Linked DNA regions of Homo sapiens. The protein of the gene in region 1 purifies or fractionates together with the protein of each later gene. This does not show direct contact. Each region holds a gene or a part of one and is shown in the gene's direction. Other genes may lie near its edges.

Region 1 (5,751 bases):
GGAGGTTGGGAAGTCTAAGACCAAGGCGCTGGCAGATCTAGTGCCTGGTGAGGGCTCGATTTCTGGTTTGCAGACAGCTGCCTTCTTGCTGTAACTTCACATGACTGAGAGAGTGCTCGGTCTCTTTCTCTTCTTATAAGGACGCCAACCCCATTCATGAAGGCTCTACCCTCACAACCTAAGCACCTCCCAAAGGCCCACCTCCTAATATCCTCACATTGGAGGTTAGGCTTCAAAATGGGAATTTTGTTGGAGGGACACAAATATTAATTCCATAGTACCTTGTCAATAGTGTTCAGGCATGTGGCCTCTACTTTTGCCCTGGCCCAATGACACTGTTTTAGTGAGTGTGATATATCCTTTAGGTCTGCTCTAAGGCCACAGCCATGAGAAAATAGGAAACTTTACATTTTAAGATGCTAGGACAGTGGTCCCCAACCTTTTTGGCACTAGGGATCAGTTTTGTGGAAGACGATTTTTCCACAGATGGGAGCAGGAGGCGGGGGATGGTTTTAGGATGAAACTGTTCCACGTCAGATCATCAGGCATTAGTTAGATTCTCATGAGGAGCATGCAACTTAGATCCCTCACATGCGCAGTTCACAACAGGGTTTGCACTCCTGTGAGAATCTAATGTCACCATTGATTTGACAGGAGGCAGAGCTCAGCTGGTAATGCTCACTCACTGTTCACCTCCTGCTGTGCAACCTGGTTCCTAACAAGCCATGGGTCAGTACCGCCCCAGGGGTTGGGGACCTCTGTGCTAGAACGCAAAAGCTTTTGAGTTCACTAATTGGAAAAGACCTTTAAAATTTAATTAAGCCTGGTAGATAACGCTTATTTGGTGTTTGCATGCCTGTGCAGATTTTACACTTTCATTTATCTTAGTTTTTATCACTTATGACATGTGTTTGAAAATGGAATAGGTATTCATTCATTCAGCCATTCACCATTTGTGGAGTGTTTCTTTTATGCTGGGAGCTGTGGGTGGCTGCATGTAGACAGGATGGCAGTGATTGTTGCCTTCCCAAAGACACGAACACACCAGCAGTGAGCTCTGTGGCATTGACTGGATTCTTATTATGGTGCTTACCATGGCCCACCATGCGGAACAGAAGTAGTGTGTTGTGATGATGAGAAATACTGACTGTCATCCCGCTTAGTAGACTTGACGGCATGGGAGGGACAGAAAGTTCTTGCTCCAGGTCTGTCTTGGGTACCTGCTGTCGCACAGTGCTGTGCTAACTCTGCTAGAGACAGAAAGTAGGTCAGGCAGGGATCTGGTCCCTGCCTGGGATGGAGAGGCTTCTGGTTGGTTCCTGTGCCACACGCACAGGAACACGGCCCTTGCTGATGGGTGTGAGGCAGGAGGTGTTGCATGTATAGTGGGATATGGTGGGAGTCAAATACAGCGGGGGCTGTGAAGTGGGGAGTTGGGAAGGTTTCTTGGAGTAGGAAGGATTTGAACAGTGCCTAAAGGGACAGGGAAGGAAAGGTGGGTGTGCACTCCAGGCCCTGGCAGGGGGCTTGGATCTCACTGTATTTTCTGGCACAGTCCCTCCCCTCCCAGCCTGCCCACTCTTCCATTGACACCCCCTACTCCCTGTCTCTCTAGCACTGGGTCTTTTATTTTTAATTCCCTTTGCCCCCTTTTTTTTTTTTTGAAAAATTTAAAACTTACACAGCAGTTGAAAGGACTATGAATGTCCCCTAGATTCAGCAGGAGTAACATTTTGTCACTTGTCCTTTGTCTCTCTCTCTCTCTTTTTTTTTTTTTTTTTTTGACATGGAGTCTCGCTCTGTCAACCAGCCTGGGGTGCAGTGGCACAATCTCGGCTCACTGCAACCTCCACCTCCTGGGTTCAAGCGATTCTCTTGCCTCAGTCTCCTGAGTAGCTGAAATCACAAGTGTGCAACACCATGCCCAGCTAATTTTTGTATTTTTTTTAGTAGAGATGGCGTTTCACCACGTTGGCCGGCTGGTCTCGAACTCCTGGCCTCAAGCAATCTGCCTGCCTTGACCTCCCAAAGTGTTGGGATTACAGGCGTGAGCCACTGTGCCCAGCCTGTCTTTCTGTTTATAAATAATACTAAACATTTTTTTTTGAACCATTTAAAAGTAAGTTGCAGACATGGTGGCACTTTACCCACAAATACTTCAGTATGTGTCTTTTAGGAAAAAGGGCATTCTCCTATGTAACCACAATACTATGCTCCCATCCCCTAAATTGAACATGAACACAGGGTATCAAACATATGGTCCATGTTCAGATGTTTCCAGTTGCCCCCAAATGTCCTTTCCAGCTATTTAAAGGGTCCAGTTAGAGATCATGTATTTCATTTGGTTGTCCTGTCTCTTTAGTCACTGTGCATCTAAAACAGTTCCCCTTCTTTTTTCCCCATGACTCTGGCATTTTTGAAGAAGCCAGGCCAGTTGTCTTGTAGGCGGTCCCAAGATCTGGAAGTGTCTGATTGTTTCCTCATTACTTCTTTCAGGTTCATTGTTTGGGTGAGAATACAACGCAGGCGATCTCGAGTGGTCTTATTTTTTAACGTGATCATGTATAATATTAAAATACTCTTTCCCACTTATCTCTGTGGCATTTATTTAAAAAAATTTCTTAGCTTCTGCAAGTGTCAGGCAGTGGTGTGTCTGACACAGAACTTTGACCTCTTGGAGCCTACATTTTAGCAGGAAGGTAGGGAAAATAAATCATATGGTCTGTTAGGAGGTGGTATGTGCTTTATGGGAAAAGAAGGCAAGAGGTGGGAGTGGGCTGGCGGGGGTGACAATTGAGTGTGCTCAGTGTCTTCAGAGCCCAGGATGGAGGCGTCTGCCTCTTATTTACCCGGGGATTGACGCTGGTCCTACAGCTTCCTCCTGTGGTAAGCTGCTGAGCTGTGGAGAGGAGAGTATGTCCTGAGGAGCCAGAGTGGTCTTTTTTGTTACCTAACTTTGTCAGCAGAAATGAGGAAAAGAAAAATGGAATTTTTATTTGAGACGGAGTCTTGCTCTGTCACCCAGGCTGGAATGCAGTGGTGTGATCATAACTCATTATAGCCTCGAACTCCTGGGCTCAAGTGATCCTCCTGCCTCAGCTTCCTGAGTAGCTGGGACTACAGGCGTGCCACCACACTTGGCTAATTTTCTTTCTTTCTTTCTTTCTTTTTTTTTTGGTAGAGATGGGGTCTTGCTGTGTTGTCCAGGCTAGTCTTGAATTCATGGGCTCAAGCGATCCTCCCACTTCAGCCTCCCCAAAAATATTGGGATTACAGGTGTGAGTCACTTTGCCCAGCCAAAAAGTGGGCTTCTTTTTTGTTTTTTTGTTTTTTGAGACAGGGTCTTACTCTGTCATCCAGGCTGGAGTGCAATGGTGCGATCACAGCTCACTGCAGCCTCAACCTCCCAGTCTCAAGTGATCCTCCTGCTTCCGAAAAGTCGGATTTAACATCAGGTCACCAAATGGGTTTTTCACTGTGGGATCTTTTGATGAGTTTTTTTCGAATACATTTCCTTGGTTTAGATGTCTCAGACCTGCTTGAATTCTCTAGAAGTCATGAATGTGGCTTCTGTTTGCACCATATTTAACCCAGAAGATATCTTAGGCTACTTTCAGTTCCCCCAGAGGTGCCTAGGAGACTCGAGTTATCAGAAAATTGAAGGGGCCTGCAGGACAGCAAACAGAACACAGGGAGGTCATTTCCCTTCTATTTTCTCTTCTTTGAACAGGATGTCACAGAGAGCTAGATGCCTTTCTATCAATGTATTTTTTTTTGAAGAAAAGGATACCTGCATTCTCCAGGACTACTCTCTGCCTTCATGGAATCACTTTCCTAACTAGGATCTGCAAATATAATGTGTCGCTCTGGGAGGGAAGGACAGAGGGAGAAAGTGGAGAGAAGAAGAGAGAAAGAGGAGAAGAGAAGAAGAAAGACAGAGAGACACGCACGTACACACACAGACACACGTACACACAGTATGTGGAGTATCACATAAAATTTGCCCACTGCTGGCAAGGAGAAAGAGCAAGGTGTTCTTGTGTGTTTGTTTGTTTTTTAAATAATCAGATTATTGGCCAGGGCATTTACATTTATGGCAAGGTTAATTAAGAAAGTTTTATTTATTTACTTTTTATTTATTTTATTTACTTTTTTTGAGACCGGGTCTTGCCCAGGCTGGAGTGCAGTGGTGCAATCACAGCTCACTGCAGCCTTGACCTCCCGGGTTCAAGCAATGCTTCTACCTCAGCCTCCCGAGTAGCTGGGACTATAGGTGCCCACCACCACACTTGGATAATTTTTTTGGTTTCTTTTGTAGAGATGGGGCTTGCCACGTTGCCCAGGCTGGTCTTGAACTCCTGGGCTCAAGTGATCCACCTGCCTCAGCCTCCCAAAGTGCTGGGATTAGAAAGTGTTTTTTAAAGTTCATCTCATGGCATCAATACTACGTAGTTAATTTATACTTCATTTTAGCAGCTAAAATATTTTCTGAATTTTTTTGTTTGTTTGTTTGAGATGGAGTTTTGCTTTTGTTACCAAGGCTGGAGTGCAGTGGTGTGATCTCGACTCACTGCAGCCTCTGCCTCCTGGGTTCAAGCAGTTCTCTTGCGTCAGCCTCCCAAGTAGCTGGGATTACAGGCATGCGCCACCATGCCTGGCTAATTTTGTATTTTTAGTAGAGATGGGGTTTCACTATGTTGGTCAGGCTGGTCTTGAACTCTTGACCTCAGGTGACCCACCTGCCTCGGCCTCCCAAAGTGCTGGGATTACAGGCATGAGCCACTGCAACCAGCCTTATTTTCTGAACTTTCATAATAAACTTCTAAAGAGCTAATTTTTTAAATTATCAAGTAGTTTAGTCTTTTTGGGCTGTTATAGTAAAGCACCATAGACTGGGGGCTGAAAAACAACAGAAATGTATTTCCTTCAGTTCTGGAGGCTGAAAGTCCACCATCAGGGTGCCAATACGGGCAGGTTCTGGTGAGGGCTCTCTAAGGGGTTGCAGACTGAGTCTTCCCATTGGGTAAGGGAGCTCCCTGGGGCCTCTTCCATAAGGGCACTAATCCCATTCATGAGAGCTCTAGCCTTCTGACCTAATCACCTTCCAAAGGCTCTACCTCCTAGTATTGTCACTTTGGAGGTCAGGATTTCAACATACAAATTTTGGGGATCACAAATATTCAGACCATAACATAAAGTGATGCATGCTAATTACAATTTGAAGGCCAGGCATGGTGACTCACGCCTGTAATCCCAGCACTTTGGGAAGCCAAGGATGGTGGCTCACTTGAGGTCAGGAGTTCGAGACCAGCCTGGCCAACATGGTGAAACCCCCTCTCTGCTAAAAATACAAAAATTAGCTGAGCGTGGTGGCGTGCGCCTATAATCCCAGCTACTAGGGAGGCTGGAGCATGAGAATCACTTGAACCTAGGAGGTGGAGGTTGCAGGGAGCCGAGATTGTGCCACTGTACTCCAGCCCGGGTGACAGAGCAAGACTCTGTCTCAAAAAAAAAAAAAAAAAAAAAAAAAAAAAATATATATATATATATATATATATATATATAAATAAATAAATTTGATCTAATTATGAGGGAGGGGAAATGATCTAGTAGTGAAATGATACATGCTGTTGTAGTTTTAGACTGTAGAGGTGAGGAATACAGGATGATGGCTTTAATCCCATTTTTTAATAATGACACATCATTGTATTAGCTGGCAATATCCTATTTGTTCTCCTCTTTAGTTTGTTT
Region 2 (5,751 bases), on another chromosome or scaffold:
AACTCTGCACTATCAATAGGTTAGCCATTAGTAACATTTAGCTATTTAAATTTAAATTAATTAAAGTGAAATAAAATAAAATAAATTCAGTTTCTCAGTCTTATTAGCTGTATTTCAAGGGCTCCCATAGCCCCATGTGGCTACAGTGCAGATATTTTCATTGCTGAAGTGGCATGCTAGATTTTAATTTTTATTCTTATTATTTAAATACTACTGTCAACTGGCTCTTCATAGATGATAATCTGTTTTCATGATTCCATTATTTTTTCTCATAAGTAAAAATACTATATATTTTATCATTTTCCAGGATTGCTTTTGCATAGAATCTTGAACTATTTCGTTTGAAAAAAAAAGGCTAGATGGTATATGGGGAAAAATACTGGATTCAGAAAAGGCATGGTTTCTATTCTTGGCTTTGACCTATTTCATTATGTGATCTGGGGCCAGTTACTTCATTGTCTGTTAAAAATTGAATATGCCATTTTAGTGTCAGAGCTATATACTTTAAGTCCATTGGTCTGAAAATGTTATCCAAAATTGGAATATACTATTGATAATTTATTTATAAAGTTACAATGAGAAGTGCAGCGATATTTTTTTTCCTCTGTGAAATAATGAAAGTCTAATCCTTGCTCTTAAAGCTTCAAGTCTACTAGGTACTGTCATGTTGTTATCCACAGTGGCTGTGTAAAATTCAATTCTCTCAGTAAATTTTCATAATTTTTATTTATGTAAATTATTTCTGTAAAGTTTTTGTCTTTTATCATGGGATTTATTTCCCACCACTAACAGTCCAATTACATTATATTCTGTTCTTGGTTTAAAGGAGTAACTTCTGGGGGTCCCGTATGTTTTGATGTGATTATGTGGCCATAAGACTGATTCCAGTAGCCACATGGAAATTCATTTCATTATTTTTTAGTTTATTTTCTGAGTATCAGTGAGAAGTATACGTTTTACAAAACTCACATATTTATCATTTTAAATCAATACATTCCCATGTTGTCATAGTTGTTTAATATTTTCAGTACCATTATTGGCATTATCCTGCAGGTTTCATGATAATAAAGTGAGATTATTGCCAACTATGACAACCCATTGAGTTATTTAATATTTTCTAGTTTTTTTTAAATCCATGAAATGCTCAATCATAATTCATCATTTAAAGCTAAAAATTGTGCCATTACTCCAAATAAGAGAGAGAGATTGTTTCCATTTTTTCCTAAGATCAACCATCAGTGTCCAAAATGTAATACCACCTATGTCCTTTGTGAGGTCTGTGAAACACACTTCATCTCCTTTTTGTGGGGTGGTTTTAAATAGAAGTTTAGTTCTGATTTTAAGTGATAAAATTTCATCTTTTCATAGGATATGAAGAGATCACATTTTATGAATATTTAAAGACTCAAAAATTAACCCCCAACCTCCAATATATTGTCATGCATTCAATTGCAATGACATCAGAGACAGCCAGCAGCACCATAGATGGTCTCAAAGCTACCAAAAACTTTCTTCACTGTCTTGGGCGGTATGGCAACACTCCATTTTTGTTTCCTTTATATGGCCAAGGAGAACTCCCCCAGTGTTTCTGCAGGTAAGTTTGCCATTGATTTTCTTGTCCCTTCTAAAAGTGATACTTGAATAACAGATGAAAATTAGGCAGGCAAAAATGAGATTTATTCAAGATTTAGTATATGCAAATATATACTTTATTCTATTTATTTTTTATAATCTATTTACCTACCTATCTACCCACCTAAGTGATATATTCAGTGTGGCCTCTTTTTGAGCTTGATAAAAATACTATAAATTCCTTTTTCCACTCAATAGCATGATGGAAAGTATTGTCATTGCATATAATTTTAGTTAATTTTTTATTACTATATAGTATGTTATTGTGAATACACCACAATCTATTTTTTCATTTTTCTGTTGATGAACACAGGATGTTTCCAGTTTTTTGAGGTTAACACCCTTGTGTATGTTTCAAGTTGTGTATGTTCAAGAATTTCTCTCGGAAACATATCTAGGGGTGGAATTCCCCAGTCCTGAGATACATGAATGTTAACACTTTACAACATCGTGTTCAGTTATTTCTCTAGAGGGCTGTACCAATTATAACCTTTTAGCCGTACATAAGAATACCCAAAGCTTTACATGTTTGCCAACATTTAAAATTTTTTTGTCAACCTAACTCACATAAATTATCATTGCATTGGATTTTTATTTTTCATTTCCCTAATTACCTATGAAGTTGAACCTTTTCTCATATGTTTACTGGCCATTCATGTTTTATCTTCAGGGAATACTTGTTTGTGTCTTTTTTTGTTTGTTTTACACATTTTTAAAAATTTTTATTTTTTGTGGGTACATAGGAGGCATATGTGTTTGTGGGGTACATGAGATAGTTTAATACAGGCATGCAAAGTGTAATCCATCATGGTAAATGGAGTATCCATCCCTTCACACATTTATCCTTTGTGTTGAAAACAATCCAATTATACTCTTCATTTTAACATGTACAATTAAATCATTATTGACTGTAGTCACTCTGTTGTAATATCAAACACTAGATTTTATTCATTCTTTCTAACTACGTTTTGTACCTATTAACCATTCCTACTTATCCGCTGCCCCCTCAAAACCCGCCCCAGGCTCTGATAACCATCCTTTTACTCTCTGTCTCCATATGTTTAATTGTTTTAATTTTTAGCTCCCGCAAGTAAGTGAGGATATGCATTGTTTGTCTTTCTGTGGCTGGCTTATTTCACTTAATATAATGACCTCCAGTTTCATCCATGTTGTCATGTTGTTGCAAATGTCAGGGTCTCATTCTTTTGTTTTTTTTTTTTTGGGAGATGGAGTCTTGCTCTGTCACCCAGGGTGGAGTGCAGTGGTGTGATCTCGGCTCACTGCAACCTCTGCCACCCAGGTTCAAGTGATTCTCCTGCCTCAGTCTCCTGAGTAGCTGGGATTACAGGCACGTGCCACCACACCTGGCTAATTTTTGTATTTTTAGTAGTGATGGAGTTTCAGCATCTTGGCCAGGCTAGTCTTGAACTCCCGACTTTGTGATCCACCCATCTCAGCCTCCCAAAGTGCTGGTATTACAGGCGTGAGCCACCATGCCCAGCCAGGATCTCGTTCTTTTTATGGCTGAGTATTACTCCAAGGTGTAACTGTACTACATTTTCTTTATCCATTTATCTGTTGCTGGGCACTTAGGTTGCTTCCAAATCTTGGTTATTGTGAACAGTGCTGCGACAAATGTGGTATGTAGATATCCCTTTGATACACTGATTTCCTTTCTTTTGGGTATATACCTAGCAGTGGGATTGCTAGATCGTATGGTAGCTCTATTTTTACTTTTCTGAGGAACTTCCAAACTGTTCTCCACAGTGGTTGTACTAATTAACACTCCCACCCACAGTGTTCAAGGGTTCCCTTTTCTCCGTATCTTTGCCAGCATTTGCTAGTGTCTTTCTTTTGAATAAAAGTTATTTTAACTGGGGTAATAAAATATCTCATTGTAATTTTGATGTGCATTTCTCTGATGATCAGTGATGTTGAACACCTTTTTATATGTCTCCTTGTCATTTGTATGTCTTCTTTTGAAAAATGTCTATTCAGATCTTTTGCCCAATTTTTAGTCATATCATTAGATTTTTTTCCTGTAGAGTTGTTTGAGCTACTTATATATTCTGGTCATTAATTCCTTGTTAGACGGGTAGTTTGCAGATATTCTCTTTCATTCTGTGGGTTGTCTTTTCACTTTGTTTATGGTTTCTTTTGCTGTGCAGAAACTTTTTAACTTCATGTGTTCCCGTTTGTCCATTTTTGCTTTAGTCGCCTGTGCTTGTGGGGCATTGCTTAAGAAATCTTTGCCCAGACCAGTGTCTTGGAGGTTTTCTCCGATGTTTTCTTGTAGTAGTTTCAAAGTTTGAGGCATTAGATTTAATTCTTTAATCCATTTTGATTTGCTTTTTATATACTGCAAAAGATAGGGGTCTAGTTTCATTTTTCTGCATACAGATATCCAGTTACCCCAACACCCTTTATGGAAAAGACTGTCTTTTACCCAGTGTATATTCTTGGCACCTTTGTCAAAAATGAGTTCACTGTAGGTGTGTGGATTTGTTTCTGGGTTCTCTATTCTGTTTTTTTGGTTTATGTGTCTGTTTTTATGCCAGTACCATGCTGTTTTGGTGACTATAGTTCTGTAGTATAATTTGAAATAAGGTAATGTGATTCCTCCAGTTTTATTATTTTTGCTCAGGATAGCTTTGGCTATTCTGGGTCTTTTGTGTCTCTATATACATTTTAGGATTTTTTTTATTTCTCTGAAGAATGCCATAGATATTTTGATATAGATTGCATTAAATCTGTAGATTGCTTAGCATAGTATGGACATTTTAACAATATTGATTCTTCCAGTTCATGAACATGGAATAGTTTTCCATTTCTTTGTGTCCTCTTCAATATCTTTCATCAGTGTTTTATAGATTTCATTGTAGGAATCGTACACTTCTTTGATTAAGCTAATTCCTAGGTATTTAATTGCATTTGTGGGTATTCTAATTGAGATTACTTTTTAAAATTTCTCTTTTGGATTCTTCAGTGTTGACATATAGAAATGCTATTAATTTTGTATGTTGATTTTATACCCTGCAACTTTACTAAATTTGTCAGTCTAATAGGTTTTTGATGGGGTCTTTAGGATTCTCCAAATATAAAATTATATCATCTGCAAACAAGGATAATTTGACTTCTCTCAGCCTCTCCCAGTGGCCACCACAGCCACTGGTCAACTGGGAGTTCTGCCAGGCCACCCCTGATGTTCACTTAAACCCCAAGTACCCTTCAGTAAGCTTGTGTTGAATGCTTCCAGGCCTGGGCCTTACCCTTCATGGCAGTGGGCTCCCCTCTGGCCGAGGGTAGGTCCAGAAAGGCTTTCTAAGAGCCTAGGCCTCGACTTGAGTTCCCAAGAGCCTGCTTGGTGCTCTGCACCCCTGTGTCTGAGTTGGTGTTTAACACACAACACAAAGTCCCCTTTACTTTTCTCTCTGCTTTTCTCAAACAGAAGTCTTTTGCCATAGATACCACAGCTGGGAATGTACTGGGTCTCACCTGAAGCCAGCATGTCTCAGAATCTCACCCAAGGCTCACGGCATACTACCTGGGTATTACTGTTGATTATTTTGTAGCCAAGGGCTTTTAACTAGCAAGTGATGAGCCCTGCCAGGATTGGGTCCTTCCTTTGAAGGCAATGGGTTCCCTTATCGTCCATGGTATGTCTAGAAATGTTTTCTGGGAGTTAGGGTCTAGAATGGTGGCCTCATGACTCTGCCTGGTGTCCTATCTTATTGTGGCTGAGCTGCTATCCAAGATGAAAGACAAAGTCCTTTTACTCTTTGCTCTCCTCTTCTCAAGCAGAAGGAATTAGACACCTTCGTTGCTGTGAGCTGCATGGCCTAGGGTTTGGGGAGGGGTGGCACAAGCACTCCCTTAGCTGCCCAGGCTGTTTCTCCCTAGGTCATGTGCTGCCCTAGTCCATGGGCTCTAAGCCCAGCCTAGCATTAGCACTTGCCTGGGAATTACAGTCCTTGTGTCCTAGATTGCCTTTCAAGTTTACCTAGAACTCCAGAGCACTTTAGCCCATTGTGACAAGGCTTGCTGAGACACTCGAGTTCCAGCTGCTGGGATGGGCCATTCCTTTCTTGCTAGGGCTGGTCCAAATGTTCTCTCAGTGCC
Region 3 (5,751 bases), on another chromosome or scaffold:
TAAGTAGTTGATTAACATTTATTTTGTATGTGATTTTTTTTTGTTTTTTGAGACTGAGCTTTGCTCTTGTTGCCCAGGCTGGAGTTCAATGGTGTAATCTTGGCTCACTGCAACTTCCACCTCCCAAGTTCAAGCGATTCTCCTGCCTCAGCCTCCCCAAGTATCTGGGATAACAGGCATGCACCACCACACCTGGCTAATTTTTTGTATTTTTAATAGAGATAGGGTTTTACCGTGTTGGTCAGGCTGGTCTTGAACTTCTGATTTCAGGTGATCCACCTGCCTCGTTCTCCCAACGTGCTGGGATTACAGGTGTGAGCCACCGCACCTGGCCTTGTGATAATGTATTATATACTGTGTTCTTACAATCAAGTAAGCTATAGAAAAGACAGTGCCCTTAAGAAGATGATAAGGAAGAGAAAGTACATTTACAGTACCATACTGGACTTATTGGTACCAAAAGTTTAGGTTGTATGTGTATGAGATGAATTGTCTGTCTGAAATGGCGGGCAACTGCAGCCGCAGACCTGAAGTCAGTTGGTACGTTTCAAGGAATTCAACTTTTTCTTGTAATGTCATGACTTTGCTTCTTGGGAGCACTTCCAGCATCAGTGGCATTCCCTGTGGGTCCTACGTTTTACTCAGTGTTTATGGTGTTGCACTAAACACGATGAAAAATATGTGAGAACAAGGAGAGATCACTTTTTACTGTGACAGATAATTTACTGGAGAGGTGAACTGCTCATGCAGAGATGATTATTGTCACATAGAGTTTTAAGATATTCAAACACTTGAGCTCACCACATTAGCAACAAAAGGTGGCTCCAGAGTTATTACAGTAGTACAGTATGTACTGCAGTTAATCTTACGCAGTTAAGACTTAATACTACATCTTTCTTTGTTTACAGTGGCACCGTGTATGGTCTGTGTTTGTGTGCCTAAGTTTTGTGATTAAATTTTAACTTTGAAATAGAATTGCATATATTTATGATAGTAAATAATATCTACATATATTTTAGCATTCATGACATACATAACTTTTTTCTAATTTTTTTGGTATTTCTAGGCTATGCGGTTCATCTGCAAGTTTTTTCAAATTGTCACAAATCTGCTGGGCATGTTGCTGTGCACCTGTAATCCTAGCCACTTGGTAGGCCAAGGCAGGAGGATTGCTTGAACCCAGGCATTTGAGGCTGTACTGTGCTATGTTCACACCTGGGAATAGTCACTGCACCTCTAGCCTGGACGATATATCCTTATATAGCAAGACCCTATCTCTTAAAAAAAAAATCATTTGGCCGGCTACTGTGGCTCATGGCTGTAATCCTAGCACTTTGGGAGGTTGAGGTGGGTGGATCACTTGAGCCCGAGAGTTCGAGATCAGCCTGGGCAACATAGTAAGACCCCTGTATCTACAAGAAATAGAAGAAAAATTAGCTGAATACCCTGTAGTCCCAGCTACTCAGGAGGCTGATGCAGGAAGATTGCTTGAGCCCAGGAAGTTGGTGGCTGCAGTGAGCTGTGGTTGCGCCACTGCACTCTAGTCTGGGTGACAGAGATCTCATCTCAAAAAGGAAAAAAAAAAAATCAAGTAAAATAAAACGTAGAACTGAAAGAAAAAACAAACCTGGCTGGGCATAGTGGCTCATGCCTGTCATCCCAGCACTTTGGGAGGCTGAGGCAGGCGGATCACTTGAGGTCAGGAGTTTGACACCAGCCTGTCCAACATGGTGAAACCCCATCTCTACTAAAAATACAAAAAAAAATTAGCCAGGTCTGATGGTGCATGCCTTTAATCCTAGCTACTCGGGATGCTTAGGTGGGAGTATTGCTTGAACCTCAGGGGCAGAGGTTGCAGTGAGCCGAAATCGCGCCACTGCGCACTCTAGCCTGGGCGACAGAGTGAGACTCCTTTTAAAAAAAAAAAAACATGCAAACCTCCAAAAATTTTTTCAGTACATTTATTGACAAGAAAAAATCTACATCAAGCTTGTCCTGTCTGTGGCCTATGGGCTGCATGTGGTCCAGGGTAGCTTTGAATGCAGCCCAACAGAAATTTGTTAACTTTCTTAAAACATGAGATTTTTTTTCACAATTTTTTTAAAGCTCATTAGCTATCGTTAGTGTATTTTATGTGTGGCCCAAGGCAATTCTTTTTCTTCCAACGTGGCCCAGGGAAGCCAAAAAATTGGACACCTCTGATCTACATAAAAAGTGGCAGTTCAGATGTGTTATTCAAGGGACAACTGTAAATACAGAAAGGCATATCCCATGGTGATCCATTGCTGTGGGGGAAAGAGGAAGGAGGGAGTGTGAGAAGGACGCTTTAAATAAAGTGATCTGGGAAGGCATCAGCATAGATAAATAGTAGTTGTAAAAAATTATCTACCTAGTAGGGACTAGGTGCAGTGGCTCACACCTGTGATTCCACACTTTAGGAGCCTGGGAGTTTGAGACCAGCCTGGGCAACATGGCGAGACCTTGTTTCTATGGAAAAAAAAAAAACACAGTAGGAAACACGTTATTGATTTGAACTTTTTCAATTAGGAGTTTTTCAGAATGAGCACTGGGTGTTTGAAGTATTTGTAATACAATTATATCTGGTTCTCATGCTGTTAACAGCTAGTCATTGAGATCACTATTTGGCGCCATGCATAGCAACATGGAATTAAGGGATGGAAAAACAGCCAGGACGTCTCTACTGTGCTGTGTAAAACAGGAGTGGCACTGATTTCTATCCCTCTCTGGGTAAGGATCAGGTAATGGAGGAAAATAAAGGAGAGGAAAGAGAAGGAAACATGATAGATTTTTATTTTGATTAAAACAAAAGTTGGTAACAGCAACTCAGGTTTCTATTAAATAAACAAAAGTTGGGAGATACTCCAAAATAACTGTTAGTAATAGCTTTAAGTTCTGACAGGCTGTGCCGACCGGAATATGATACCTAAGTTTTAAGTGCATTGAAATAGTGATTCATGTTTCCTTTTGCCTGTCTTATACCCAGCTCTTACAACTACACTTGTGTCTTAAGTATAGTGCTGATGTGGTAATAGGATATTTCTATTCAGCCTTATGCCTTTACTGTGTGTACATTCTGTCCATTTAAAAGGCTGAATTGTAAATCTTAATTTTAAAAAATTAAATGTAGTCAGTTGTCATTAATAGCCTCATGTTTCTTTTTTTTTTTTGAGACGGAGTCTCACTCTTGTTGCCCAGGCTGGAGTACAATGGTGCAATCTCGGCTCAGTGCAATCTCTGACTCCTGGGTTTATCAAGCGATTCTCCTGCTCCAGCCTTCCAAGTAGTTGGGATTACAGGCGTGCGCCACCACACCCAGCTAATTTTGTATTTTTAGTAGAGATGGGGTTTCACCATGTTGGTCAGGCTGGTCTTGAACTCCTGACCTCAAGCGATCCACCCTCCTCAGCCTTCCAAAGTGCTGGGATTATAGGCGTGAGCCACTACGACCTGACCAGCCTCATGGTTTTAATTTTCAGTTTTGTTGGCTGGAAAATGATCTTGGATGTAATATTAAATCTATCAAAACATTAAGCTGTCAATAGAAACATTTGAGAGTTTGTTTTTAAAACTGTAGTTGTATTTTAAAAATAGCTGTACAGCTTAGGAATGGGGGGAGAAGGGAGATAAAATCAGAAAATTTTCTTTTTTGTTGGCTATTTGTCTATCATCTATGATTAGTTGAAATACAGCCTAGTAATAAAAGCTGAGGATTTATAAAGTGGTAATTTGTAGCTTCTTCATCTGTTTTTTAGTGTAAAATGCAGCGAATTGGTTGCTTATGTAGGACTTCAGTAAAATAAGTGACTAGCAGCAGTAGCAGCAGCATCGAAATTTTATCGAGGTCAATTTGTTCTTGTTATCTTAAGCTGTTATCATTAAGTGCCCGGTTGTATCTTAGCATACAGAGGCGGAAAAGCAAGAGCATTCAGAATTTAGGCAATTGGCTGAGTGTAGATCAGAGTTGTCAAAGGGAGACTCTTCAGATGGGTGGCTTCATGGATACTTGTTCAGAGTCACATTTACCTTGTACCTAGTAAGAAACATAATTTGACATTTTTCATTCAGTTAAGTAGTAGTTTTAATTACTTGTAATTGTATGGTAGAATTGAAGACTTTATAAGTAACCTGTTATAATCGTGTCAGTTTAAGGTGTTGTGAAACTGGAAGCCATGCTGTCCAAACTCCCATATCTTAAATTGCATCCTGCATTTTAGGCGCGGTGGCTCATGCCTGTAATCTCAGCACTTTGGGAGGCCGTGGTGGGCGGATCACCTGAGGTCAGGAGTTTGAGACCAGCCTAACATGGTGAAACCTTGTTTCTACCAAAAGTACAAAAATTAGCTGGGCGTAATGGCGGTTGCCTATAATCCCAGCTACTCGGGAGGCTGAGACAGGAGAATCGCTTGAACACGGGAGGCAGAGGTTGCAGTGAGCTGAGATTGCGTCATTGCACTCCAGTCTAGGCGACAGAGCAAGACTCTGTCTCAAAAAAAAAAAAAAAAAAAAAAATTGCATCCTGCATTCCGCAGTTGATAACAAGGCATGTTTAAACTTTGCTCTCATACTTCGTTCTCCTCAATGTCTGATTGTGAGTGTGCTTTTTGAAAAATTCTTTTTTATTTAGGCCTAATGGGATTGTTTGAAAAACGTCGCTTCAGGAAATTCCTAGTGTATGTTGCCAACTTCGATGAAAAAGATCCAAGAACTTTTGAAGGCATTGATCCTAAGAAGACCACAATGCGAGATGTGTATAAGAAATTTGATTTGGGTCAAGACGTTATAGATTTTACTGGTCATGCTCTTGCACTTTACAGAACTGATGAGTAAGTATTTTGGTTTTTAGATTTGTATTTTTCTTGAAATTCTCACTAAATTTCCCAAGTCTTCCAAGTGGAAATTCTAACAAAACAAATACTTAGCCATATTGCACTATGAATGAAGAGGTTCTAGTTGAAATTAGTGTTGGGACCTTTTAAGTGATTTAAATATAAAGGTAGTGGGCCAGGTGTGGTGGCTCACGCCTGTGATCCCAGCACTTTGGGAGGCCAAGTTGGGTGGATCATTTGAGGTCAGGAGTTCAAGACCAGCCTGGCCAACATGGTGAAACCCCCTCTCTACTAAAAATGCAAAAATTAGTTGGGCGGTAGTGGTGCGTCCCTGTAATTCCAGCCACTTGGGAGGCTGAGGCAGAAGAATCACTTGAGCCTGGGAGGTGGAAGTTGTGGGGAGCCGAGATTGCACCACTGCACTCCAGTCTGGGCGACAGAGTGAGACCCTGTCTCAAAAAACAAAAAAACAAAAAAGAAGATAGCGGATTGAAATCGCTTCAAAAAAAATTATAAATTGAACACCATGAATGAAAACTAAAGCCCTTTCCTAATACTCATTTCCTTTCTTCCAGTTACTTAGATCAACCGTGTTATGAAACCATTAATAGAATTAAACTTTACAGTGAATCTTTGGCAAGATATGGCAAAAGCCCATACCTTTATCCACTCTATGGCCTTGGAGAACTGCCCCAAGGATTTGCAAGGTAAGAGCCTGTGTTTAAAACCTCAGTGATCCAAAACCTCATCTTCAACATAATGTGTATATGAGATATAGTTTAAATAATGAGATGAGATCAGTCTATGAGTAATAAGATGCTTTTTATTTTTATTGAAATAAAATTAACATATAATGATATGCATGGATCTTCAGTTAAAAAAAATCCAGTTTTATACAACTGTA
Region 4 (5,751 bases), on another chromosome or scaffold:
TTTACTTATTTCTAAATTTTAAACCCTTTTCTATATTGATTGCATAGAGTCTTTCTAAGAACCCTGCATTATAGTCCGCCAGAGCACTAACAGACTAGCAGGCTTAACCAAAAGAGTATGAAGTCATTTGTTGTTGTATTTTCTATAAAATTTCACAGTGTTACAGAAGAAGGCAAATAGCCCATCACATAAGGAATATTTGCAGTTCTAGCTTTAATGAAATTGTCGTGCTGTGTTTTTTTAGACGTCCTTCACACTCTCAAATCTGTACGAATTATTTCAACTGATTGTCTGTTAGTGATTCATTCCTTGGTTTGCCTTCTTTCCTATAGCAGAAGCTGCTGAACAATTGGGAAAGAATGTTAAGTTAGTGGAGCGTTTGGTGGAATGGTGTGAAGCCAAAGATCATGCTGGTGTGATGGGGGAGTCAAACAGACTGCTGTCTGCCCTTATACGACACAGTAAATCAAAAGTAAGTTCCAGAGGAAACTGTTCACTAGAAAACTTCAGAGTGTCTTTTTCAGAAACCCAGCATTGTAGGTCCTAACAACTGGGATAATATTTACCTGAAAGTATTGTGAAGATTCAGTGAGATCATGTATATAATGTGCTTAGCTGATACATGGGATATAGGAAACACTCGGTAAATGGGGGTTGCTGTTGTTGCTGCTGCTATTGTTGTTATTACTTTTACCACCACCGTTATCAGCATCAGTGTCAAACATTCTTTGTGCCAGGCATTGACCATGCAGCCTACTGATATTTAGAAATTAAATGGTACCTAGATAGTATATGATGTCCAGAGCTCACAGAGTTAGAAAAAAATCCATTCTTGTGGCTGGCTGTGCCGCTGTCTGGCACATGGTAGATAACCAATAAATGAACAAATGAGCTATTTTAAAGATCACAATAGTGAGTACCCAGGCCAGCAGTTCAGCAGCTGATTTAGTATCTAGATTATATGATTTTTAAATTTTTTAAATACTGTTTTCTTGTTGGGCGTGGTGGCTGACACCTGTAATCCCAGCACTTTGGGAGACTGAGGTGGGCAGATCATGAGGTCAGGAGATCAAGACCATCCTGGATAACATAGTGAAACCCCGGGTCTACTAAAAATACAAAAAAAAATTAGCTGGGCGTGGTGGCGGGCACCTGTAGTCCCAGCTACTCGGGAGGCTGAGGCAGGAGAATGGCGTGAACCCGGGAGGCGGAGCTTGCAGAGAGCCGAGATTGCACCACTGCACTCCAGCCTGGGTGACAGAGCAAGACTCCGTCTCAAAATAAAATAAAATACTGTTTTCTTTTTCTTTTTTGAGACTGAGTCTTGCTCTCTCGCTCAGGCTGGAGTACAGTGGCACAATCTCAGCTCATTGCAACCTCCACCTCCTGGGTTCAAGCAATTCTCCTGCCTCAGCCTCCAGAGTAGCTGGGATTACAGGCAGGCGCCACCACACTCGGCTAATTTTTGTATTTTTAGTAGAGATGGGGTTTCACCATGTTGGCCAGGCTGGCCTCAAACTCCTGACCTCATGATCCTCCCACCTTGGCCTCCCAAAGTGCTGGGATTACAGGCATGAGCCACCATGCCCAGCCTTTAATACTGTTTTCTAAGGTGACCCTTTCAGTCATTTCTCTTGTACAACTTCAGTAGTGATTATATATGAGGAGAAAGTTTAGAACTCAAATCCACCAGCTGTTTTCATTTATTTTTAGAACAGATAAGAAGAAGATGCCAAGAGAAAAAACGTAAAACTAAAGCTGTTCTTGTATAAATCTCTTTCATATAAATAATTGGCTTCACCATAATAGCTGTCCCAGCTGGTAAGCCTCAGGAGTGTTCTTCTCCATCAGATGCTAAATCTTGAGAACTTTCCCTGGGGAAAAGCAGCTGTTAACTAGGACCTTCCTATTACCTGTCTCACCCAGACCACCCTAAAAGCTCATACATTTTTCCTGACACAGGACCAAGCAGTATGTTGGCAAGGTGGAAGTTGTCAGGAGAGAATAGCAAAATGGCTTCCTTGGTACCCCTTTGACCCCTTCTCCATCATAACTGCTCTCTCACGCCCATTTGTTCATTTAACAGTTAATATTTGAGTTCTTGCAGTGTAAATACTAAAAAATAGTGTTTCTATAAAGGAATTAACTATCCGTTGAGGGGACAGAAATAAAAACAGCTAGCTTAAGTACAGCTTTAAAGCTACGTATGCTATTCGGGTGTAACAGAGGAAAGAAAGACTAACACACTGTCTGGGTAATCTGGGATGGTGCCATAGAAGGAGTGCTATTTTAGGCGTTAACTAGGAATCTCAGGAGGAAAGGGAAAGAGAATGAAGGAAAGGGCCTTTTCAGGCAAAGACAGCAGGATGTACAAAAGCACAGAGATGTAAAACAGCATAATTTTTTAAAGAAACTGCAAATAAAGCAGTATTGCTAGAACACAGAGTGTAGAAAGAGACAGTAGCCAGAGAGGTTGAAAACTGGGAATTAAGTGAATTATATACCAAGTTAAGATATATGGACTTGATTCTGTAGAGAATTCGGGAGCACTTAAAGGGTTTTAAGCAGCAAGTTGCCATTATTTGAGGGTTTTTTTGTTTTCTTTATTTTTTGTTTTTTTGTTTTTTCGGGGTTTTTTTGAGACAGAGTTTCGCTCTTGTTGCCCGGGCTGGAATGCAATGGTGCGATCTCCACTCACTGTAACCTCCGCCTCCCGGGATCAAGTGATTCTCCTGCCTCAGCCTCCTGAGTAGCTAGGATCACAGGCGTGCACCACCATGCCCGGCTAATTTTGTATTTTTAGTAGAGACGGGGTTTCTCCATTTTGGTCAGGCTGGTCTCAAACTGCCGACCTCAGGTGATCCGCCTACCTCGGCCTCCCAAAGTGTTGGGATTACAAGCGTGAGCCACCACACCCAGCCATTTAGTTTTCATTTAGAAAGATGTCTCTAGGGTTTAATGGGGGTAGAAAGGACAGTTATTGCAAAAATATATATGAGAGTTGATAAAGGACTGAATTAAGGTTTTGAGTTGAGCAATTTGAAATTGCTGATATTCAGCCATTTTTGAAACAAATTTCATATGGGTTATTCAACTAGAAGCAGCGAGGATGGAAAAGAAGAGACAGACCTGAGAAAAATATGGGTGGTAGAATTGACAGATTCAACAGTAGAATTAAAGGAGGAGGTAGTTTTAGAGCTAATTCCAAGTTTGGGGTTTACCACCAGATTGGGTTATCATGCCATTCAACAAAATAAAACACTATAGGAAGAGGTGCAGCTAACACTCCCTAAACTTGCCCACTCGCCCATGCTCTTTGGAGTCATTACCCTTAATCTTTTTGCTCTACTCCAAGAGAATCTCCACCATTGGTTTGCAGGGGTATACAATCATTTGGATTTCCCTGGGCCATATTGGAAAACGAATTGTCTTGGGCCACACATAAAATGCACTAACACTAACAATAGCTGATGAGCTTAAAAAAACAAAAATCACAAAAAAAACTCAAACACCTGTGGCATTTGAAGAAGAAGAGAAATCTAAAAGTTTAGAAAACCAGCTGAGTGCGGTGGCTCACGCCTGTAATCCCAGTACTTTGGGAGGCCAAGGTAGGTGGATCATTGTGGTCAGGAGTTCCAGACCAGCCTGGCCAACATGGTGAAACCCCATCTCTACTAAAAATGCAAAAATTAGCCAGGCATGGTGGCGTGCGCCTGTAATCCCAGCTACTGGGGAGGCTGAGGCAGGAGAATTGCTTGAACCTGGGAAGCGGAGGTTGCAGTGAGCCAAGATCGTGCCACTGCACTCCATCCTGGGTGACAGAGCAAGACTCCCAAGACTCTGTCTCCAAAAAAAAAAAAAAAACAAAGAAAACTTTTGGAAAACATATTTGGGAGAATAATCAAGGAAGACTTCTCCAGTCTTGCTAGAGACCTAGACGTCCAAATACAAGAAGCTCAAAGAATACCTGGGAAATTCATTGCAAAAAGATCATTGCCTAGGCATATTGTCATCAGGTTATCTAAAGTTAAGACAAAGGAAAGAATCTTCAGAGCTGTGAAGCAAAAGCACGAGGTAACCTATAAAGGAAAACCTATCAACTTAACAGTGGATTTCTCAGCAGAACCCCTACAAGCTAGAAAGGATTGGGGCCCTATCTTCAGTCTCCTTAAAGAAAGCAATTATCAGCCAAGAATTCTGTATCCAGTGAAACTAAGCTTCATAAATGAAGGAAAGATACAGTGTGTTTCAGACAAACAAATACTGAGAGAATTCACCACTACCAAGCCAGCACTACAAGAGCTGCCAAAAGGAGCCCTAAATCTTAAATCCTGGAAACACATCAAAACAGAACCTCTTTAAAGAATAAATCTCACAGGACCTACAAAACAAAAATACAATTAAAAAAAAAGTGGGGGGTATACAGGCAACAGATAGCATGATGAATGGAATAGTACCTCACATCTCAATACTAAGATTGAATGTAAATGGCCTAAATGTTCCACTAAAAGATACAGAATTGCAGAATAGATAAGAATTCATTAACTATCTGCTGCCTTTAAGAGACTTACCCAACACATAAGGACTCACTTAAGGTAGAGGGGTGGAAAAAGACATTCTATGTAAATGGATACCAAAAGTCAGCAGGAATAGCTATCTTGTATCAGGCAAAACAAACTTTAAAGAAACAGCAGTTCAAAAAGACAGAGGGACATTATATAATGATAAAAGGCCTTGTCCAACAGGAAAATATCACAATCCTGAATATATATGCACCAAACACTGGAGCTTCCAAATTTATAAAACAATTGCCAATAGACCTAAGAAACAAGATAGACAGTAACACAATAGTGGGAGACTTCAATACTCCACTGACAGCATTAAAGAGGTTATCAAGACAGAAAGTCAACAAAGAAACAATGGATTTAAACTATACCCTAGAACAAATGGACTTAACAGATATTTACAGAACATTCTACCCAAAACTGCAAAATATACATTCTATTCATTAGCAAATGGAACTTTTCTCCAAGATAGACCATATAATAGACCACAAAACAAGCCTCAATAAATTTTAAGAAAATTGAAATTATGGCAAGTACTCTCTCAAACCACAGTGGAATAAAACTGGAAATCAACTCCAAAAGGAACCTTCAAAGCCATGCAAATACATGGAAATTAAATAACCTGCTCCTGAATGATCACTGGGTCAATAACAAAATCAAGATGGGAATTTAAAAATTCTTTGAACTGAACAATAAATGATACAACCTATCAATACCTCTGGGATACAACAAAGGCGTTGCTAAGAGGAAAGTTTATAGCCTGAAATAGGCATTTCAAAAAGTCTGAAAGAGCACAAAGAGACAATCTAAGGTCACATTTCAAGGAACTAGAGAAACAAGAACAAACCAAACCCATACCCAGCAGAAGAAAGGAAATAACCAAGATCAGAGCAGAACTAAATGAAATTGAAACAAAAAAGACAATACAAAAGATAAATGAAACAAAAAGCTGATTATTTGAGAAGATGAATAAGATTGATAGACCATAACCAAGAAAAGAAGAGAGAAAATTCAAATAAGCTCACTTAGAAAAGAAATGGGAAATACTACAACTGACACCACAGAAATACAAAAGGTCATTCACAGCTACTATGAACACCTTTACATGCAAAAACTAGAAAACCTAGAGGAGATGGATAAATTCCTGGAAAAATACAACCTTGCTAGCTTAAATCAGGAAGAATTA

What was found.
Region 2: the proteins of RAB31 (region 1) and CHM purify together in Homo sapiens (affinity purification with mass spectrometry; 4 studies listed by BioGRID and IntAct, with this or other methods). This does not show direct contact.
Region 3: the proteins of RAB31 (region 1) and GDI2 purify together in Homo sapiens (affinity purification with mass spectrometry; 4 studies listed by BioGRID and IntAct, with this or other methods). This does not show direct contact.
Region 4: the proteins of RAB31 (region 1) and RAP1GDS1 purify together in Homo sapiens (affinity purification with mass spectrometry; 3 studies listed by BioGRID and IntAct, with this or other methods). This does not show direct contact.

The regions. Positions count from the first base shown.
Region 1 is NC_000018.10:9,713,765-9,719,515, forward strand, and holds part of RAB31 (ras-related protein Rab-31), read left to right. Parts: intron 1-2,496; exon of another isoform or gene 2,497-2,592; intron 2,593-5,751. UniProt on the Homo sapiens protein: The small GTPases Rab are key regulators of intracellular membrane trafficking, from the formation of transport vesicles to their fusion with membranes.
Region 2 is NC_000023.11:85,951,996-85,957,746, reverse strand, and holds part of CHM (rab proteins geranylgeranyltransferase component A 1), read left to right. Parts: intron 1-1,368; coding exon 1,369-1,594; intron 1,595-5,751. UniProt on the Homo sapiens protein: Substrate-binding subunit of the Rab geranylgeranyltransferase (GGTase) complex.
Region 3 is NC_000010.11:5,784,945-5,790,695, reverse strand, and holds part of GDI2 (rab GDP dissociation inhibitor beta), read left to right. Parts: intron 1-4,645; coding exon 4,646-4,844; intron 4,845-5,422; coding exon 5,423-5,554; intron 5,555-5,751. UniProt on the Homo sapiens protein: GDP-dissociation inhibitor preventing the GDP to GTP exchange of most Rab proteins. By keeping these small GTPases in their inactive GDP-bound form regulates intracellular membrane trafficking.
Region 4 is NC_000004.12:98,420,923-98,426,673, forward strand, and holds part of RAP1GDS1 (rap1 GTPase-GDP dissociation stimulator 1), read left to right. Parts: intron 1-332; coding exon 333-472; intron 473-5,751. UniProt on the Homo sapiens protein: Acts as a GEF (guanine nucleotide exchange factor) for the Rho family of small GTP-binding proteins (G proteins) that stimulates the dissociation of GDP to enable subsequent binding of GTP.